Linked DNA regions of Homo sapiens. Changing the gene in region 1 together with any one later gene gives a genetic interaction. Each region holds a gene or a part of one and is shown on either strand. Other genes may lie near its edges.

Region 1 (4,244 bases):
TAATCCCAGCACTTTGGGAGGCTGAGGCGGGTGGATTACCTGAGGTCAGGAGTTCGAGACCAGGCTGGCCAACATGGCGAAACCCCGTCTCTACTAAAAATACAAAAAAAAAAAAAAAATAGCTGTGACAGTTTTAAGTAAGCAAACGAGTAGACAAAACTTACTTTCCTTCTTCAGACAGCCTCATAGTCACCTCATTCCACTTTACGAGTGTAAAGTCGTCACAAGGAGAAAATTGTTCTACATGTAGGTCATGAGTTGACATTTTCTTTCATTGTCAATAAAAACAGCAGATTCCAATGCGTAAAATTTGGATTTATCTCTTTAGCATAACTCATAAAATAAAATAAACCATCCCTACCAGATAACAACTTTTTAAAATAAAAAAGTCGATGTAGAAAACATGTTGATCAATACCACAAGTAGCACCCGATGTAACATTTATGTCTTGCTTGGAAACCTTTTCTTTTTGCAAAACTATATTTCAAAAGATAGAACAGTCATGGTACAAAAATGTTTATTTAAATTAAATATTTGCAACAAATTAATATTGACAACTGTTCCAAAGTATGAGTTGTTCTTTCAAAAAAACGAAACAGTTTAGCTTAATGTCTGTGATACTGTTTTATGAGATTATTCATACATGCTCTGGACTGCGCATCAGTCAATCATATCATCAACAATTTACTATTTATTACCAAATGGCATATAAAGTAATAGCATAAAGAGTAATCATACCTTATAAGTGATTTTACAATAGGACATCTTAGAAGGACAAAAAGGATTTATCAACAATACAAAACATAAGATAAAAATAATAGGAGATTATATAAAACATATTTCATACAGGAAATAATATGCTAAAATCAAAAAACCAACAACTGTCTTTCAGCACACTGTTATGCATGCTCCTTTAAAGGAGGTTTGGGGGAAAGATGAAAATATTTTGGGGGCAGGGGTCCAGGGCTCAGAAACATTTTTGGAATCACAGTGAGTTTCTGATTTGCGGGAAGTTGCTCTAAAGCACTGGCTGAGGACTTTGCCTGAGGACCTGGCTGGTGAGGAAGACAAATTCTCACAGCAGCTAAAGGAAGCATGCTTGGGATAAGTCAGGGGCTGTTTCAGTTAGGGACCAGTTCAGCAGTGGAGGAAGAGCAGAAAGAAGAGAAAAAGAAATCCCAGAAAAGAGAGTAAGGAAGCTGGAGACAGCCGGGAAGGAAGCACCTTTTGAATCTACAGAGGGGAAAGTGTGTATCCAGATTTGAAGACAGTGACTTTGCTTGGTTGCAAAGTCCTTTTAGGTACCCTGGGTCTTTGGTCATTAGAAACAGGGAGTTGGCAACAAGTTGTCATTGTTAATAAAAATATCTGATTTAGACTTTGAGTTTAGGAGTTGCATGAAGTGGGCATGTGTCTCTCACACTCCTGGTATACATTCAGACTGTGCATATTCTTTTTTTTTTTTTTTTCTTGAAATGGAGTTTCACTCTTGTTGCACAGGCTGGAGTGCAATGGTGCAATCTCAGCTCACTGCAACCTCCACCTCCTAGGTTCAAGACATTCTCCTGCCTCAGCCTTCCAAGTAGCTGGGATTACAGGCATGCACCACCACTCCCAGCAAATTTTGTATTTTTCATAGAGACAAGGTTTCACCATGTTGTCTAGGCTGGTCTCAAACTCCTGACCTCAGGTGATCCACATGCCTCGGCCTCCCAAAGTGCTGGGATTACAGGCGTGAGCCACCGTGCCCGGCCTAGACTGTGCATATTCTCTTGAAGTGTGTGTATAATAAACAAATTAACAAAAAAAAAGAACTGCTTTAAAATGTATATTTAAAATAAAATAGTTTTAACTCAATCCCATTTTCTGTGATATAGTTAGCCATACTGGTTAATTTCTCAAATCAGGTTGACTGTTTTTTCTCAAATTGTATGAGTCCCTTTGAAATTTTGTGGTCACTTTGGAAGGGGGTGCAGAAAGTGCAGAAAGCCTCGTGGTCCTTGGGCTGTGCACACAAAATTATCACCAGATCGTAGGTTAGCGAGCTCATTAATGAGTCAAATTTCCCCATCTTCCTTTATTAATCTTGAGAGAACCCTAAATCAGAAAACTGGACCAGAAGGGACCTTGGCTATCAAGTCTGTCCCCCCATTAGTTTCGATGATGGCTACCAAGAAAAGACGTCAGTGAACATTCCACTGGGAGACAGCAACTCTCAGGGGCTGGAGGAAAACTCACTTGAAGGAATATACTTAAAATGTGGGCTGCAGGGGCTGGAACGTGGGGAAGGGGATAGAGGCGGCACTCGGATAAGGAGAGTCCAGCTTAGGCCAAAGGCTCTGGGGCCGCAGTTCAGACCTCCCTGCCCTGAGCGGTGGGAGGAAAGCTGGTGTGGCTGGACGGCTCCTCTGCCACTCAAGGCACAAGAAGGAGAGGGCGCGAGGGCTGACCGGACGGGGCGCCTCCAGCTCTATGACACACTGTAGCTGTTGTAGTACGTGGCCGTGGCATCAGCCAGGACGGAGATGAGGCTGGTCTCTGTGGGACCCGTTGGTGTCACCTGGGAGACCGGAACATGCCCACTGAGGGCCATGGCCCCTGTGGCGGAGTCTGGGTGGCCAGGAGTGTTCAAATACTGGTCGAATTCATTGCGATCCATGTCCCCCAGGAGTTCCACCTGGCTCAGTTGATCCAGGGCGTCGAAGCCAGGGTGCTCAGGAGGCGGGGAAAGCTGGCCCAGGTGGGCTTGGAGGTTGGAGTGGAGTGGGTGGTAGGTGGCCGGGGAGTAATAGGCAGGAGATGGGGGACAGCCGGGTACAGGGGACATCATGGAGACGCCGGGGGACTGGCCAAGGGCCAGGGAGCCCAGGGGGTGGCTACAGTGGAGAGGGCTTGGGGCGTACTCCGGTGAGTACGGGTGCCCTGGCAGGTGGGGGATGCGGCGGGGATGGCCATGCTCCTCCTGGCAGGGGGAGGAGAAGAAGGTCTGCTCCGGCTCCAGCACGTCCAGGGGAGACATTTCAGGAGGTGTGGGCAGCCCGTACGGGTACGTGTCCACACTGCTCGGGGTGCCGCCGCCGCCACCACCAGCCGGCCCCTCGTGGTAGCAGCCCCGGAGGCTGGGCAGGGCAGTGCCGGGGGAGTACTCACCCCTGTCCTCCTTCTCCCCCAGCGCCCCCCGGCTGCCGCTTCTCTTCTCCGGCAGGGCGTTCTGGTCCCGGGAGAGGGAGCTCAGAAGGAAGCCCGGGTCCACGCGCTTGCACAGCCGCTTGGCCTGCTTCTTCCTGCGCGGCCGGTACTTGTAGTTGGGGTAGTCCTGCATGTGCTGCAGGCGCAGCCGCTCCGCCTCGTCCACGTACGGCCTCTTCTGGGACAGCGTCAGCGCCTTCCACGACTTTCCTGCTCACACAAGGCAGAGGAGGCCATGCTCAGTGCTGTGCCCCGCAGGCATCGCACATGCACACGCGTGCACACACACGTGCACATGCACACACACCTCCCTTCCCCCTCCCAGCCACAGAGGACACGGGCATCTCTTGCACCCTCTTCCCAGCCCAGATCCTGCAGGCACAGTGAAGCGAAATCAACCCCTCTGCTTGCATCCAGAAAGCCAGATCGTGCACGGTGCACACAGAAAGCATCACCTCTCATATAAAAGCCGCCAGAGCGTGCCCACACTACAATGCGGGGTCCCCAGTGAAAAGCCCACCTGACCATATGTCAGCTACGGGAAGAAAATATCTAATGATCACGATATTGATTGGGGCTCTTTTTACCCTTCCAGGGTCCATTCTAAACATTTGTGTATTCTCATGAAAATCTCTGCCTTCATTGATTAGTGCAGGCTAAAGAGATACTATCATATTTACCTATGGCATAAATCTCACAGCCCTTTCTGGGAGGGAACCCAGGCTCAGTCAATACTTTCACAGATGTCAGTAAATCAGAGATTCTCACTTAGGTTAACAAATACCTATTCCTTACCTCTGAAGGTCGAATAGAACCCTGCTGGATGACTGAGGCCAGAATGCTAGCATCTGCTTGCAACACATATACGCACACCCAGACACATGCATGCACACACATATACATGCAAACCGTCACTTCCAGCCAGCCATCTTTTGGGGACCCTTGACGGTGCCAGGGCACCTGCTTAGCCACAGATCTCCATGCAGAAGCCATTCCCTGCACTTTCCAGAGTCTCTATTTTCTTCAGTATAAAATAAAGATATTGTGACACTCTC
Region 2 (7,583 bases), on another chromosome or scaffold:
GGCATGAGAATCGCTTGAACCTGGGAGGCGGAGGTTGCAGTGAGCCAAGATCGCTCCATTGCACTCCAGCCTGGGTGACAGAGCAAGACTCTGTCTCAAAAAAAAAAAAAATACCGTAATTTTTAACCAATCCATAAGCAATAAAAGTAGGTCCTAAAGTTAGTAAGCAACTTTGACAGAGTGCAACCTACATTCAAACTATAGTTTGTTTCTTAGTTTGTCCTCCCCTCCTTCCCAAAATACAGCTTCTACTGTATTTTGGGTACAGTATTTTAGAAAATGACTACATTTCTCTTTGCAATATCTTAGTGAAAAACAGAATACGTGACTCTGATTCTAACATTACATCCACTATTCAGTATTTTCATGTCAGTACACATTTAAAGGACAGAATTTAAAGTTCCTTACCAAAGCATAACAAGGCAACTAAAGAAAAACAATTCAGTGGGAGAAGTTCCAGAGGAGGGAAAAGTGGTCAAATGAAAGACATTATTCTAAGACAACAGTTGGAGAAACTGATGGTAGAAATAATGAAAGTCCATAAAATTAAGAAAAGATGAACTGAGGCTTGTCCTGATAATTCTTGAAACACAAACTCTGACTGTGTCCTGAAAGTTTAGGGACACAGGTATGGAATATGTAAATGAACTGTCACATAATACACAGGCTAATAAACTTGCAGAACTCATTACTTTAAAAAAAAGGACCAAACATTGTTAAGTTTGAGAAAGTTTTAAATTAATCTAATCAAGATCCTGAATGGAGAACTTCGAAAAGAGAGATAACCCCAGGCTTACATTCATTCCCACAAAGTATCTCTCAGCAGTGGCTTCAGACAGAACGAGCCCACAGTTGTCTAGACGGACCACAATTCTCAGTATACTACTGTCTATGTCTTCTTACATAAAATTCTGCTCTATGTTTAACCCTTAAGGTCTGTATATGAAATATTAATTACTTTCATAAACCTTTAATTTGGTACTCTGACAAGATACCTAAAATACAAGTCAAAGGTTTTATAAACTTCAGCTTTAAAATAATGGAAGGAAAAAATCATTCCTGACTTAAATATCAAAGATGTATCCTAAATTGATACAGAAATAAAGATAATTCAAAAAAGCAAAGCCTCAAACCAAATAAAAAAGTGCTGTAATTTGTTACTCTAAAAAAAAAAAGGGGGGGGTGAAAGGGAAAAAATCACAACTTTTATAAAATGATTAATGTGATAAATGCTCTTCCCCAAGTAAGTTGTGATTCCTAACAACTCAAGTTCCTGAGTAACTGACATCTGTTACAGTGTCCTCCTGACACACATGAAATTGGACCCAGTAACTGAGAAGGTTAACTCCTGTACCAATAGGTACTGAAATGAACCTCTCTCAAAACAGGTTTGTTGTTGTTTTTTAAAAAAGGAATTTTACTTTCAGGGGTCCACAGGTTAAGTAGTTCTCATTCGGGAACCTATATGAGAGTACCCCCGAAACAAAAAGTACACCGCACACACCCACAGTACCAGGAAAAGGTTACAGATACAGATGGCCTCTGTGCGCACATATGCTCTGGCTTCCTCAATTTCCCTTTGCCAACTGCTGGCCAGAAAGGTGCGAGTATTCACTTTGGAGAAAAGACTCCTCCGACAGAAACCTGCATACTTGCATTACTCGTACAAAGAGCTAAAAAGTTACAAAATACAGGCCTCCCTAACACCTTCCCCCCTCCGTGAATAAAGCTAGACTCCCTCATTGATAGACTCCCAACACTACTGGAGAACATCAGCAAAACTCCAGGAGGAAGCGCCGGCATCCTCCCACTTTCTCCCCCTCAATTCCCTCTCCCGGGGCCACTCACACTTTTAGAAAAGAGCCGCGGCGCCGAGAAAGTGGGTTGGTTCCCTTCCTCCTTCGGACTGAAGCGGCAGCTGCGGAAGGCTCCGGCGCGGTACTGAGGAAGAAGCGGTGCTCGTGTCGCTAAACCAGGCGGCAACCCGGGTCTCTTCCGCGCTGCCAGGGGAGGGGAGGCGGCGGCCCCGCTTACCTCCTCTTTTCCTCTTCCTGGGTCTTTTCAGGCTGCGGCTTCTGCCCGTCCAGGGCCACTTCTCCCGGGACAGTCAGGTTTGGGAGACTCCGGATTTTGTTTTTGTAAAGTTTCCTCTGGGTGGAGGCTGCGGCCGGCCCCCCGGGTCCCCCCCGGCCCCGCCGCCCTCGGGACTGGGGCGGGGGAGGGGGGCTCTAGGAACTCCTCCCGGAGTCCAGCCAAGGAGCCGGGGGGCCGGCGACTGGCCAAGGGAGAAGACCCCCGGAGGGGGCTGAGGGGAGGGGGAAGGTGAGGAAAGGACGGCGGCGTCGGTCCTGTTCTCTCCGCCGCCCCAGCCGCCGCTTCACATCGGGGTCCCCGCCCCCCCGGCCGGGGGGTGGTTGCCGAGCTTGGTTGGGGCCCCGGTTCATACACTCCGGGGCAAGATGCTACGGCCCCGGGCGGGTGGCCGAGTCGGCGGCAAGGCGAGGGACCCGGCCGGCTCCGCTCGGCGCCGCCCCCGCTCCCGGCTCCCGCATGTGTCGCTGCGGCTGGGACCCCCCTCCCTACACCTTGGGGGTCTCGCCCCACGCCCCACGGGACGAGGCAGAAGCTCTGGCGCCTCCTCAGCGTTCTCTCACCGCGGAGCAGCTACCCACTCCCGGCCCGTGGTAGCCGCCTCCCTGCCCCCCAAGCCGCCGGCTCCGGCTCAGGCTCGGGCTCCGGCTCTGGCTCCGGCTCCGGCGTGTGCAGCCGCCGCTGCCGGCCGGGAAGGTGAGGGGGGGAAAGGAGTGCGGCCGCGGCTCCCGCTGGCCCAGGTGAGAGCGAAGGTCTCGGCGGCGGCCAGTGCAGGGGGACTGGATCTCTCGGATGCTCCTTCGCTCTCAGTCTCAGCGGCGGCGGCGGCGGCAGCGGCAGCGGCAGCGCCCGGAGCTCAGCTCGCTGTCTCCCTCGCTCTGTGCGGGGCTCTCGCCTCACTCCAGAGAGAGGGGCGGGAGGAGAGCGGCGCCTGCCGATGACGCAAGTCACCTAGCAACCGCTCTCTTCCCCCTCCCTCTTCTTTCCGCTCTGAGGCTTCCTCCGCTGGCCTTTTTCCCCCTTCCAGCCACCCCGCCCTGGGCGCCTCTGGCGCGCTCTGATGACGCTCCAAGGGAAGAGGAAGTGGGGATCGGCGAGCGGGTGGGTGCGCCTCGGGCCGCGGGACTCGCAGCCGCCACCGCCGCTGCCGCCTCTACGGCCGCGTCAGAACTGAAGAGAGGAAGGGGAGGAGCCGAGTCGAGCCTAAGCTGCCGCCCGATCTTACCCCTGACCCGAGGGCGGCCTGGAGAGCTTGGTCTGTAGCGGTTTCCTTCGGGGCAGGTGGGGACTGCTCCTTTGGGAGGAAGGAGGAGGCCCAGGCCGCGTCTTCAGGCAGCTGCGCGCACCACCCGAAGGTGAGGCATTTGGCCCCAAACAGACCCTCGAAAAGCCGGACTGATCGAGGAGTTACCCTACAGCCTGATCTGCACCTGCTCCAGGGAGAGAGCGCCCCACCCTTCCCGTGGCGTGGGGTGAGACCCAGCGTTGGATAACGTGTGGTCGGGCCGAGCAAATGTTTGATGAATGAATGAATGAATGAATGCCTCTCTCACGTGGCACTCGTGAAGCTCAGAGGATATGGTGGAAGTGCAAGCGCTTTGTAAACTGCAGTGCATTGTAAAAATGAGTTGTAATACATTCCTCCCCTCCCCCTAGCCATGAAAGGAAACAGGGGTGCGGCTTGAGTACAGAGTCACAACCTGAGTCTTTAGTGGAAAAGGAGACGAAATGCCGAGCAAGGGAAGGGACCCATCCTCGCGCAGATTGTTAGGGCGGCGGGAAGGGAGGATTGGAAGGGAGCCATCCTCTGGGAGATTGCTGAAGGATTTTTGACTGTCAGGGGAAGAATTTAATAGTCCCTCACTTTTACGAATGGTTCTTTCTTACGGTTTGGAGCTTTCGAGAGCTTCTGGTCTTGGTTCATCAGTGTACGTTGTCATCAAGAAATGTTGGCCTGTTTCAGGTCTGACTCAAAGGTTATTTTCTTTCTAAAATAAGTGTTATTACTATTATGCAGCTTTTCCTACAGATGTTATCCTGGAAAGGAAAGTTAAGTAGAAACTCATGAAGTTTAAAGTGTAGTTCTCTAGGAAAACAAATTTAAGATAAAAGGACCAGAATCCTCAGAAATCTGTCTTCAGTGAATAGTATGAGAAAAAGATTAAAGCAGCAGCAATGATGAAAGCAGATTCCACAATTCTGTCCCTGGACCCTAGTACACTCTACCTCCTTGGGAAGCAGTAGTAATGGATTTTACAAGTCTTTCCACCTGGAGGAGGGGGTAAGGTAGGAGCAAGTGTATTATAGACAAATGTGGGAAGCTCTGGGTTTCTCCCACTACTGCCACTACCATCTGCAAACAGTAAACTAAGGAAACTTTTAACTGGGTAAATCCAAGGGCTCGTGTTCATTAAAATGCTGCGGGAAAGGTGGTGAGAGGGGCAAAGGAGGATGTGGCAAAACCAAGGAGAGACTCACAGACTAGCACCTGACCCTACTGCCCTTGACCTGAAGTTCCAAGAGCCAGGTTAAATATCCTGCTTAAATTACCCTGGATTTTTCTGTCTTTACGTGACCAATCCCCTGCTACAGCCTTCCAAATAAGACTCACAGGTAATCAGACCAACAAGTGATGGTCTCACATGGCTACAAAATAAATATTTTTTGTTTTTCCCCCTCTTCCTATCTTACAACAGGGGAATGGTGGAAATTAAAGGAGTAAAACACACAGATTTAGGGGATTTTGTGAAGCTAAACACCTCAGAGAGTTTAACCTTTGTAGGCTTTGAAGGAAAAGAGTGCAAACATCAGAGTTCTGCAGCCCAGCAGAGAACACCTCCAGTTAAGTGTGTACCACATAGGGTTTTTCAGCAGCGTGATCTTCTGTTTTCATTGTCAGTGGCTCCACCTTACAACCTCAGTGCTGAGGAACAGAAGGGCACTCAGGAGAGCCTGAGCCACTTACTTAGAAAGTATTTAATAACAGCACACTAAGCTTACTGGGCTAGATACCCACCTCAGCACCCAGCTTGATAACAGGAGGAAACAGCTGGAACTGGAGACTGGAGAGAAGGAAGTTCATACATTTCCAACTTGGTCTGCATCTCTTTAGTTCCTTGTATTGCTTATTAATCCAGAGGAGAAAACAGCTAGTTAATTAAAAATTCCAAAAAATCTGAAGTTTTAGCTAATAGTTACTTCCCTGGTTCATCAATTTAAGATAAGGATCTAAATACTGTGTTAAAATATAGAAAAACGGAGACTCTTATAAGGTTTTTGACCTCTACACTTGAAAGTGAGCTCTTACAAGAAACTAATCAGTGTTTCGTTATTCCATATCAGTGGCTTTTACTGTCAAAGATTGTGTAAGCTAAATTATCTGGCAAAATTTTGCTTTCCAGAAATACTATCTATATTAATTTTAACATTTTTATTGTGAAATATAGTTTAAATACATAAAGCAATTATATAGTATAAGTGATTATAAAGGAAACCACCATGTAACCAATCAACCAGGTCAAGAAATGGAATATTTCCAGCAACTCAGAAGTTCCCCTCCCTGCCATGACCTTCCCGAACACAACTCTTTCCCTCCCTCCTAAGTGTAGTCATTATTCTAACATTTGTGATAATCATTTCCCTGCTTTTCTTTGTCGCTTTGTCGCAAGCATGCATCCCTAAACAATATATTGTTTAGTCTCACTCTTTCTTTTGAACTTTATGTAACTGGAACAATATAATATGTAATCTGTTGTTCTTGCTGCTTTTGCTCAACATTGTTTTTAATTCATATGTTGTTCAGGTTGTTCCTATAGCTGTAATTTGTGCATTTTCATTGCTGCATATTACAGTGTCCCATTATAACAATATGTGACAATATGTTTAGCCATTCTATTGCTGATGGACATCTGGGTTGTTTCCAGTTTAGGATTGTTATAAATGCTAATGTGAACATTCTTCATATATGTATTCCATCACATCTACGTCAGTTTCTGTATAACATATACCTGGGAGTGTAATATGTATCATAAACTTGAATAAATAATGCCAAGTTCTTTTCTAGAGGGTTACACAGTCACACTAGGTATATATGAGTCCCATTGCTCCACACCTTCACAACACTTGACATTATTGGTCTTTTTGGTTTTGCCAGTCTGGTGGGTGTATGGTAATATATCATTGTGGTTTTAACTGTCATTTCTCTGATTACTGATGCTGTTGAGGACCTTCTTGTATACAACTAGCTATTTGGATTTACATTTTTGTGGCGCGTTAGTATCTTTTCAATGTCTAAGTCTCTGAGATGCCCAACTTTTCAATATCCTTTCATAGTCCACATTTGAACAGGTAAAGTAATGTTATGGGATGTTTAGGGTGTCGCTTTTCTGGCCAGAAACCTCTGTAGCCTGTGGCGCCTTTGCACAAGTCTTGCTCAGGCCCACTGGGCTCATTCCACCTACTTGGCCTGGCAGGCTGTGCTCAGCTTATGCTACCGGCCTGGATCCCACACCTGCCAAGGGCAAGTACGGCGTGGAGTGGCAAGGCATGTGTGAGCGAGCGTGAGGTCTGGCTACTGCGCAGTCAGACACACCAGCTGCTGCAGTGGGGCGGGCAGCTCCAGATGCACCAGCTCTCTGCAAGGCTGTGGCTGGACCAGGCATACTGCAAGCAGCTTCCACAGCTGGCACCAGGGAACACATTGGCACCCGGAAGCTTGGAGACGCCAGGAACTGCAGGGACCCAAAGAGGGAGTCACAGTGTTGGCTTGGGGAGCTCCCAGGTCTGGGCTCCCCAAAAGGCCACAGCCCTTCCCTCCTCTTCACCCGCAACGTGGCAAGCAATGGGGATGTCTCAGCCCCATTTGTGTTATATCTCGTTTAGCCTCGCCATCTGGCAGGTCCCAAGTTCTTGTCCCGTGACCAGGAAGAATGAGGTACACAGACAAGTGGAGGGTGAGCAAGATGTTATTGAGTAATGGAACAGCTGAGAGGAGACCCACAGTGGATAGCTCCTTTCTGCAGCCAGGGTGTCCCAGTGAGTGTTCAGCTGCTAGCAGGGAGGGCAGCTCCTTTCTGCTAGGCAGGTTGTCCTGATGAGTTTTCAGCTCTCAGCAGAGAGGAGAGCTCCTCTATGCAGGAAGGTTGTCCCAACAAGTGTTCAGTTCTCAGCAGGGAGGATAGCTACTCTCTGCACCTGGTCATCCTAACAAGTATTCAGCTAGCGGCAAAGAAGGTAGCTCCTCTCTGCAGCTGGTCATCCATCGCCTGCTCAGTTCTGACTGAGCCCCGGGCCTCAGGGGAGGAAGTGCATGCTGATTGGTCCTTGGGCAGGCCTAGGAAAAAGCACCATAAGTTCCCCCTCTAGTGTGCAGGATGGGCAGTCCAATCCCCAGGCTTCAGGCCTTCCCCAGCCTAAAGGTGGGACTTCACTGGGAACCCGCTCCTTTCCACACTGGAGCCTGTCTGCCTCCTACCACTTTTCATGGCACCCAG

What was found. Genes that interact genetically often act in the same process or in processes that back each other up.
Region 2: changes in SOX7 (region 1) and FBXW7 are lethal when combined (synthetic lethality), as found in Homo sapiens cells (one study listed by BioGRID).

The regions. Positions count from the first base shown.
Region 1 is NC_000008.11:10,723,268-10,727,511, forward strand, and holds the end of SOX7 (transcription factor SOX-7), read right to left. Parts: intron 3,400-4,244; coding exon 2,471-3,399; 3' UTR 501-2,470; downstream 1-500. UniProt on the Homo sapiens protein: Binds to and activates the CDH5 promoter, hence plays a role in the transcriptional regulation of genes expressed in the hemogenic endothelium and blocks further differentiation into blood precursors.
Region 2 is NC_000004.12:152,533,093-152,540,675, forward strand, and holds the start of FBXW7 (F-box/WD repeat-containing protein 7), read right to left. Parts: upstream 3,001-7,583; 5' UTR 2,035-3,000; intron 1,942-2,034; 5' UTR 1,849-1,941; intron 1-1,848. UniProt on the Homo sapiens protein: Substrate recognition component of a SCF (SKP1-CUL1-F-box protein) E3 ubiquitin-protein ligase complex which mediates the ubiquitination and subsequent proteasomal degradation of target proteins.